2 linked regions of the Homo sapiens genome follow. The protein of the gene in region 2 purifies or fractionates together with the protein of the main gene of each other region. This does not show direct contact. Each region holds a gene or a part of one and is shown on either strand. Other genes may lie near its edges.

Region 1 (3,831 bases), on a different chromosome or scaffold from region 2:
AGCATTTTAATTCTCTTTCTCTTTAATCTTCTTTTGCTCCTCTGAATTCTCATTAATTCCTCTACATTGCAGAAAACATGAAACTGACCTGTCAACCATGAGTGTTACATATATGAATAATGTAAAGTTCACTCATAAATAGGGTGTGTCTTAACAACTTCTTGATAAGTTTTTTAGGGTCTTACATAAAGCTGCATTCCCACAAAGGAAACGGCAGCGTGGTTTTCCCTGCTCATACCTCTCATACCTTCTGCTTGTGGTGAGAGGAACTCTGTTCTTCTGCAGTTTCTCCAATGCTTTAGTTATTAGTGTTGATAATTCAGGGGAACACCACAGTGTGGTCGTTTTGGAAGGAACAGATCTTGAGAATCTAATAACGTCTCCACTGAAAACTGTGTTTTTACATAATCTCACATACAGTTTTATGGAGTTTGATTATTCTCACATACTTTGTCTTATGGGCCAAAAACTCCAGGTAATAAAATATCACTGCTGTAGAACATAAGGATTCTGATTTTTTAAAAATTTATGTCATATTTATTAACATACTGATTTATTTCCTGCCTGCCTTGTCCCCACCTTACTGAAAAATGTATCCTAATTCATATGTGTCCTGTGTTTGTGTTAAGGAAAAAACATTTTTTAAAGAGCTTTCTTCCTGTAAACACTATTAGGCACCACAAACTAATTTTATCTCATCTGAAAGTTTCATAAATACATTGTGGTTTCTTTATTTGGATCTTTAATAAGGAGGATGGATTTAAACAGGCCACAAGACAACTGGACCAGGGGGCGGGGGTGTTGTCATCCTCATCACAAATACTTTGCAAGTATTTAGAACAAATACTTCTCAGAATACAGATTTAGGCTAGGCTCATATCTATCTATAAATCATATACATATATAAACTAAATAACACATAGAAAATCTGTATGACTGAACTACAAGAAAATTATAAGCAAGGTCACATAGGGCTTAGAAGAAATAATAGATTACAGATGATTAAAGTTAGCAGTTTTTCTCTGTTTACACTTCATCATTGGGAAGGGCATCCTTAGGGGCAACTATCATTCTTCTGTACGATACAGAGACTGCCAGGCTAGAGTCACTGGCATCTCTCTGAGTTGTTTCTGTTTTTATAAAATGGCTTTATATACTGTTATAAACAATTTTGTTACACCATTTTGCTTATGAAAGATCGTTAGGAATGTATGCTTTTCTATAAGAAAAACTGTTATACAATTGTAACAGTTTTAAATCAACATGCATGAGCCTATAGTGATACAAATAAACAATTGAATGGATACATGGAGAGCAGGGATGCTTCCTGCAGGAGAATTCTAAATAAGACGTGGATACATACTCTTCCCTACAGGGAGTATAACTTATTTCTCCCTTTAAGTACAGGCTGGATTTAGTGACTCACTTCCAAAGAACAGAATATGGCAAGGGTGAAAGAGTCATTGTATAGTGGAGAAGCCTGGCAAACATTGTCTTAACCAAATGACCCAAGTTAACGCCACCAGCTGTAAGTCATGTTGATACCATGTATCCCTTTGAACAATGCTGTGAGAAGTCACTTCATCTCTCTGTTCTGTTCCTAAAAACCCATGGTCCCAGTCTGATCATGAGGAAAGAGCAAGCAAATCCAGTTGAGGGATATTCTACAAAGTACCTCACCACCACTACTCAAAACTGTCAAGATCAAGAAAAATAAGGAGAGCCTGAGAAACTTAAAGGCAGAGAGACTAAGGAAACTTGATGACTAAATGCAGTGTTGTTTGAATTCTGGAGCAGAAAAGGAATGTTAGTGGAAAACCTGGTTAAATCTCCAAATGCAGTCTGTAGTTAATAGTAATATACAAAGTCGACGTCTTAGTTTTGACACACGTACCATGGTTGCGTAAGATGTTGACAGAAGAAACTGGGTAAAGGATATATGGAACACTGCAATTCTTGTAACTTTCTGTAAATCTAAACTTAATTGTAAAACAAAAGTTTGTTTTTAAACAGATGCCATTTTATATATCCTTGATACCTAGGAATTTGGTTTCTTCTTGAAGGACTTGGGGATGTATGCTTTTAATCAGTTTTCTTCAGGCCCTGTTTCCTACTTGTGAACCCTGATACAAGAAGGGGAAAGGTTTTAAAAAGGAGGCATCCAGTCCTATGGAGGCCTCTGTGGAATCTTTGATAGGCTCTGCTAAGAAGTGGGAGCAAGGGAGAGCAGCTTTACTATTTTGATTCTACATAATAGGCAGTCTTAATCAACTTCATTGTTCCCTTTAAATTTTTTAAAATTCAGTACTGAACATGTATATGTTTACATGTAGGTACAGACATATATGTGTTTGCATACACCACACATGCATATCAAGTTTTTCCCTCTAGCTTTAATTACTTTTAAGGGACAGGGATAGAGACCTGTCTGTGACTTGATTTGACTATCACATGGAATTTATGAGTGCCACCAATCTTTGCACTTTATTTCCATGTGTGTATGTTATTCAGCTGATAATAGGAAATTTTTTAGTAAGTTCAGATTAGGGTTTTTTTTTTTTTCGTGGAATCCTTTTACGTGAAATGTGAAATAGCATATTTTAAATGCCTTAAAATGTTTTTCTTCTTCAGTATTTTAAGGACTTTTCTTTATTTTCTTCCCAGATAAAACAATAAAATTATGGAAAATCAGTGAAAGGGACAAAAGACCAGAAGGGTATAACTTGAAAGAGGAGGATGGAAGGTATAGAGATCCTACTACAGTTACTACACTACGAGTAAGTACATAAGAAAAAAATGTCACAGATAGTGCTTGTATTCATATTATATAGCCCAAATCCTGAGCAGAGCTTGAATAGGAATAATTACAGTCTATCTCCCCTTTCCCAGTAATTCTGTAATCAGGTAGGACATTGAGTAACTCATTTAAACATAGAAACTGACCTACATAGAGGTCTCACTTTGGCCAGGGACAGAAGCAGGACTCAAGCACAAGACAGTATTTCACGCCATCAGACTTCATCTCTGGTTTGTCATGTTAGCTATCACAAGGTCAAGTTTCAAGATAAATTTTCTTTGGAAATCAAAAAAGTAGATACAGATCAAATCTTCTAGTTGTAGCTAAAAAATACCAAGAATTAGATGTTATGGGTTAATTTTCTTTTTAGCCTCTTTAATCTGAACCATAAACATTTATTAGCTTGGCATGTCTTTCAAGCAAAATATTGAAACTAAGAACTGCAAATTCTAATAGTATTGCAACCAGTAAAAGAAGATATATTATCCACATTGTTCATTTTTTCTTCAGCACTCGAAAGGATCAACATCAGTTGCTTTTTAAAACTAAATCTATGTAATATTGTTCTATTTTATGTTCTCAAAAACTGAAATAATGAAGTTTTCTGAATCTTAATTGCTATTTGAAACTGAGCCTTTTGTAATTTCTGTTTTTCATGTGTCTTATTGACAGGTGCCAGTCTTTAGGCCTATGGATCTAATGGTTGAGGCCAGTCCACGAAGAATATTTGCCAATGCTCATACATATCACATCAACTCAATTTCTATTAATAGTGATTATGAAACATATTTATCTGCAGATGATTTGCGGATTAATCTTTGGCATCTGGAAATTACAGACAGGAGTTTTAGTATCCATTTGGTTTTCTTTGGTGTTTGGTGAAGAAGGCATGTTGTGCCCATATTAGATTTATTTCATCTCTCCTAATGAATTTGGTTGCTTTTTATAGTCTGTGTACATATATGTATGGCACCTTATTTTTTTCTTTGTAGATGAGTAATGAAATACTGGAAAAAGTTATTTGCTAAACATAA
Region 2 (5,339 bases):
TTTCACCATGTTGGCCAGGCTGGTCTCGAACTCCCGACCTCAGGTGATCTGCCTGCCTCCCAAAGAATACAACGGGCTGGGCATGGTGGCTTATGCCTGTAATCCCAGCACTTTGGGAGGTTGGGAGTTCAAGACCAGCCTGACCAACATGGAGAAACCCCGTCTCTACTAAAAGTACAAAATTAGCTGGGCGTGGTGGTGCACGCCTGTAATCCCAGCTACTCGGGAGGCTTGAGGCAGGAGAACCGCTTGAACCCAGGAGGCAGAGGTTGCAGTGAGCTGAGATCGCACCACTGCACTCCAGCCTGCCTGGTGACAGAGCGAGACTCCGTCTCAAAAAGAAAAAAGGCTCACGCCTGTAATCCAAACACTTTGGGAGGCCAAGGCAGGTGGATCACCTGAGGTCGGGAGTGCAAGACCAACCTGGCCAACATGGTGAAACCCCGTCTCTCCTAAAAATACAAAAATTAGCTAGGTGTGATTCCAGGCGCCTGTAGTCCCAGCTACTTGGGAGGCTGAGGCTGGAGAATCACTTGAACTCAGGAGGTAGAGGTTGCAGTGAGCTGCGATAGCACCACTGCACTCCAGCCTGTGCGACAGAGGGAGACACCATCTCGAAAAAAAAAAGAAAAATTCTTTTTTTTTTTTTGAGCTGGAGTTTCGCTCTTGTTGTCTAAGCTGGAGTGCAGGGGTGTGATCTCGGCTAATTGCAGCCTCCGCCTCCTGGGTTCAAGCGATTCTCCAGCCTCAGCCTCCCAAGTAGCTGGGATTACAGGCATCCGCCACCACACCCGGCTAATTTTTTGTATTTTCAGTAGAGACGTGGTTTCACCATGTTGGCCGGGCTGGTCTCGAACTCCTGACCTCAGATGATCCGCCCGCCTCAGCCTCCCAAAATGCTGGGATTACAGGCGTGAGCCACCGCGTCCAGCCAAGAAAAAAAGTTTTTAATGAAAGAAACAGAAACTGATGCCATTATATAATGAACCCTAGTACCCATCACCCAGCTTCAGCAGGTGTTAGTATTTTGTGACTCTTTGATTTTTTTGTCTTGGGCCTAGGTGAAATGACAATGGATGCTCTGTTGGCTCGATTGAAACTTCTGAATCCAGATGACCTTAGAGAAGAAATCGTCAAAGCCGGATTGAAATGTGGACCCATTACATCAACTACAAGGTTCATTTTTGAGAAAAAATTGGCTCAGGCTTTACTGGAGCAAGGAGGAAGGCTGTCTTCTTTCTACCACCATGAGGCAGGTGTCACAGCTCTCAGCCAGGACCCACAAAGGATTTTGAAGCCAGCTGAAGGGAACCCAACTGATCAGGCTGGTTTTTCTGAAGACAGAGATTTTGGTTACAGTGTGGGCCTGAATCCTCCAGAGGAGGAAGCTGTGACATCCAAGACCTGCTCGGTGCCCCCTAGTGACACCGACACCTACAGAGCTGGAGCGACTGCGTCTAAGGAGCCGCCCCTGTACTATGGGGTGTGTCCAGTGTATGAGGACGTCCCAGCGAGAAATGGTAATGGGACCGTGTGTAGGATTTCCTCACACAGATAGCACATACGCGGAGGGGCGGGATGACGTCTGAAAATGGAAAACTACAGATTAAGAAGGAAAAAATCCAATCCCCTCCATCTCATCACCCCAGTTAACCATTGTTAACATTTTTATGTAGAACTTTTCTGAAATATTTGTGAATTTAACATGAGAACTGTTAAAATTTGTGAGGTAAATTGGATTCTATGAGATATGCTGGACTGAGATATTAATATTAACTGGCTGCTGCTGTTGGTTAGGAACTTTGTTGATTAGTCATCTCCGCCTTTTTAAAATGCAGTGTAACCTGCACATCTTTTATGTTAATGAATGCAAATGGCCAATGAGTGTATAAATACTTTTCAGCATCAAAGATTTGTGGTTTTATTTTGTTTTTATTTATTTATTTATTTTTTGAGACAAAGTCTCACTCTGTTGCCCAGGCCAGAGTGCAGTGGCGTGATCTCAGCTCACTGCAACCTCTCCCCTCCCAGTTTAAGCGATTCTCCTGCCTCAGCCTCCTGAGTAGCTGGGATTACAGGCGCCTGCCACCGCGCCTGGCTAATTTTTTGTATTTTTAGTAGAGACGGGGTTTCACCATCTTGGCCAGGCTGGTCTTGAACTCCTGACCTCATGATCCACCTGCCTTGGCCTCCCAAAGTGCTGAGATTACAGGCTTGAGCCACCGCGCCTGGCCATTTTATTTTTTTAATTTATTCATTCATCTGAAACAGGGTGTTACTCTGCCACCTAGGCTGCATTGCAGTGGTGCAGTCACAGCTCACTGCAGCCTCAACCTTTCTGGCTCAGGTGATCCTCCCACCTCAGCCGCTTGAGTAGCTGGGACCACAGGCATACGCCACCACGCACAGCTAATTTTTATGGTTTTTTTTTGTTTTGTTTTGTTTTGTTTTTTTGAGACAGAGTCTCGCACTGTCACCTGGGCTGGAGTGCAGTGGTGCGATCTCAGCTCACTGTAACCTCAGCCTCCTGAGTAGCTGGGAACTACAGGCGCCCGCCACCATACCCAGCTAATTTTTTATTTTTTGTATTTTTAGTAGAGACAAGGTTTCGCGATTTTGGCCAAGCTGGTCTCGAACCCCTGACGTCGTGATCTGCCCACCTCGGCCTCCCAAAGTTCTGGGATTACAGGTGTGAGCCATCACGCCCAGCCAATTTTTGTATTTTTTATAGAGGCGGGGTTTCGCCACGTTGCCCACGCTTCTCTCGAACTGCCCTCAAGCGATCCACCCACCTTGGTCTCCCAAAGTGCTAAGATTACAGGCACACACCAGCACGCCTAGCTAATTGGTTGTTTTTGGTGGTTTTTTTTTTTGAGACTGGGGTCTCTCTCTCACCCAGGTTGGGGTGTAGTGATGCAATCTCAACAACTCACTGCAATGTCTGCCTACCAGGCTCAAGGAGTCCTCCCACCTCAGCCTCCGGAGTAGCTTGGGATCGCTGGGATCACGGGCACGTGCCAGTACGCGCCAGTTTTTTTGTATTCTTGGTAGAGACAATGTTTCCCCATGTTGCCCAGGCTGGTCTCCCAACTCCTGGGCTCAAGTGATCTGCCAGGCTCAGCCTCCCGAAGTGCTGGGATTACAGGCGTGAGCCACCTCGCCTGGCCACACCTAGGTAATTAAATTTTTTTTTTTTTTTTTAAGAGACTGGGTCTCGCTTTATTGCTTAGTCTGGTCTTGAACTCCTGGCTTCAAGCAGTCCTCCCACCTGAGCCTCCCAAAGTGCTGAGATTACAGGTGTGAGCCACTGTGCCCAGCCCAAGAATTGTAATTTTAAAGAAGATTTAGCATTGGAAAAAAGAAATGAGAACTCAGTATTAATTGGGATGCCAGAAATTGCACACTGTTATGAGTATTGTTATTACTGTGATACCATTTGTGGTGACGCCTATGAGTACATAATTGGTTAAACACTATGAATAGAATGGAATATTGTTCTGTAAGATCTTTTTAAAGAATACGTAGGGGCCGGGCGCGGTGGCTCACGCCTGTAATCCCAGCACTTTGGGAGGCCGAGGCAGGCAGATCACGAGGTCAGGAGATCGAGACCATCCTGGCTAACACGGTGAAGCCCCGTCTTTACTAAAAATACAGAAAATTAGCGGGGTGTGGTGGTGGGCACCTGTAGTCCCAGCTACTTAGGAGGCTGAGGTTGCAGTGAGCTGAGATTGTGCCACTGCATTCCAGCCTGAGCGACAGAGCTAGATTCCATCTCAAAAAAAAGAAAGTAACACTGGGAAATGATCATGGTGCAGTTTTTATTTTTATTATTTATTTATTTATTTACTTATTATTTGAGACAGAGTCCCGGTCTGTCGCCAGGCCGGAGTGCAGTGGTGCGATCTTGGCTCACTCCAACCTCTGCCTTTTGGGTTCCAGTGATTTTCCTGCTGCAGCCTCCCGAGTAGCTAGTACTACAGGGGTGTGCCACCACGCCCGGCTAATTTTATATTTTTAGTAGAGACAGGGTTTCTCCACGTTGGTCAGGCTGGTCTCAAACTCTCAACGTCAGGTGATCCACCTGCCTCAGCCTCCCAAAGTGCTGGGATTACAGGCGTGAGCCACCGTGCCCGAACTATGGCTATTTTTATCCAGTAGTGGACAGTAACCATTCGTCTGTTACATTGTTCATAAATTTTTGTCTCCTGGCCAGTAGTGTATATCTTATGTATTTACGATAGTCTCATACAAAACTTAATTGTGATAGTTCCACTACAGAGCTTTAATATTTTTATATAATCAGGATTATCTTGTTTTGAATGGTTTCTTGGCATGTTTAAAAAGGCATTCCCAGCCGGGTACAGTGGCTCATGCCTGTAATCCCAGCACTTTGGGAGGCTGAGGTGGGCAGGTCACCTAAGGTCAGGAGTTCAAGACTAGCCTGGCCAACATGGTGAAACCCCGTCTCTACTAAAAATACAACAATTAGCCAGGCATGGTGGCCGGTGCCTATAATCCCAGCTACACGGGAGGCTGAGACGGGAGAATCGCTTGGACCTGGGAGATGATGGTCGCAGTGAGCCAAGATCACACCACTGCACTCCAGCCTCGGCAGCTGAGTGAGACTCCATGTCAAAAAAAAACAGCCATTCCCGGCTGGGCGCCGTGGCTGACACCTGTAATCCCAGCACTCTGGGAGGCCGAGGCGGACAGATCACCTGAGGTCAGGAGTTTGAGACCAGCCTGGCCAACATGATGAAACCCCGTCTCTACTAAAAATACAAAAAATTAGGCATGGTGGCGGATGCCCATAATCCCAGCTACTCGGGAGGCTGAGGCGGGAGAATCGCTTGAACCTGGGAGGCAGAGGTTGCAAGAGCCAAGATCGTGCCACTGCACTTGAGCTTGAGCGACAGAGCGAGACTCCGTCTCCAAAAAAAAAAATAAAGTAAAAAATAAAAAGGCGTTCCCTGTTCAAAATTGTGTTTAAAATTCTCTTATGTTCTTGGCTGACATAATTATAGTTTTTTTTTTTAATTTGCCTTTTAATAATTTTTATTTAGATCTTTATATGAAATTTAGTTTTTAGGATAGAATCTTGGCATATAGAATTACATATATGAACATAATATATATCATGTTACATGCATATATGCACACTGTCGAGCTTGTTAATTGTTCTATTTTGGCTAGCTTAGGCCCTTTTTCTTCAGGATTAAAGATCTGAACTAAGCCAGGCGACTGGGTAGCAGATGTGGAAGCTGATGGTTAGGCCCAGGGCATGGCCAGGTGACAGCTCTCCAGTCACTCTTCTCTGATTTTCATTTGTTACTTTTCTT

Evidence for each region. The genes of interacting proteins can lie anywhere in the genome.
Region 1: the proteins of ANKLE2 (region 2) and PPP2R2A purify together in Homo sapiens (pull-down; one study listed by IntAct). This does not show direct contact.

The regions. Positions count from the first base shown.
Region 1 is NC_000008.11:26,357,505-26,361,335, forward strand, and holds part of PPP2R2A (serine/threonine-protein phosphatase 2A 55 kDa regulatory subunit B alpha isoform), read left to right. Parts: intron 1-2,664; coding exon 2,665-2,777; intron 2,778-3,469; coding exon 3,470-3,647; intron 3,648-3,831. UniProt on the Homo sapiens protein: Substrate-recognition subunit of protein phosphatase 2A (PP2A) that plays a key role in cell cycle by controlling mitosis entry and exit. Involved in chromosome clustering during late mitosis by mediating dephosphorylation of MKI67.
Region 2 is NC_000012.12:132,750,856-132,756,194, reverse strand, and holds part of ANKLE2 (ankyrin repeat and LEM domain-containing protein 2), read left to right. Parts: intron 1-1,061; coding exon 1,062-1,520; intron 1,521-5,339. UniProt on the Homo sapiens protein: Involved in mitotic nuclear envelope reassembly by promoting dephosphorylation of BAF/BANF1 during mitotic exit.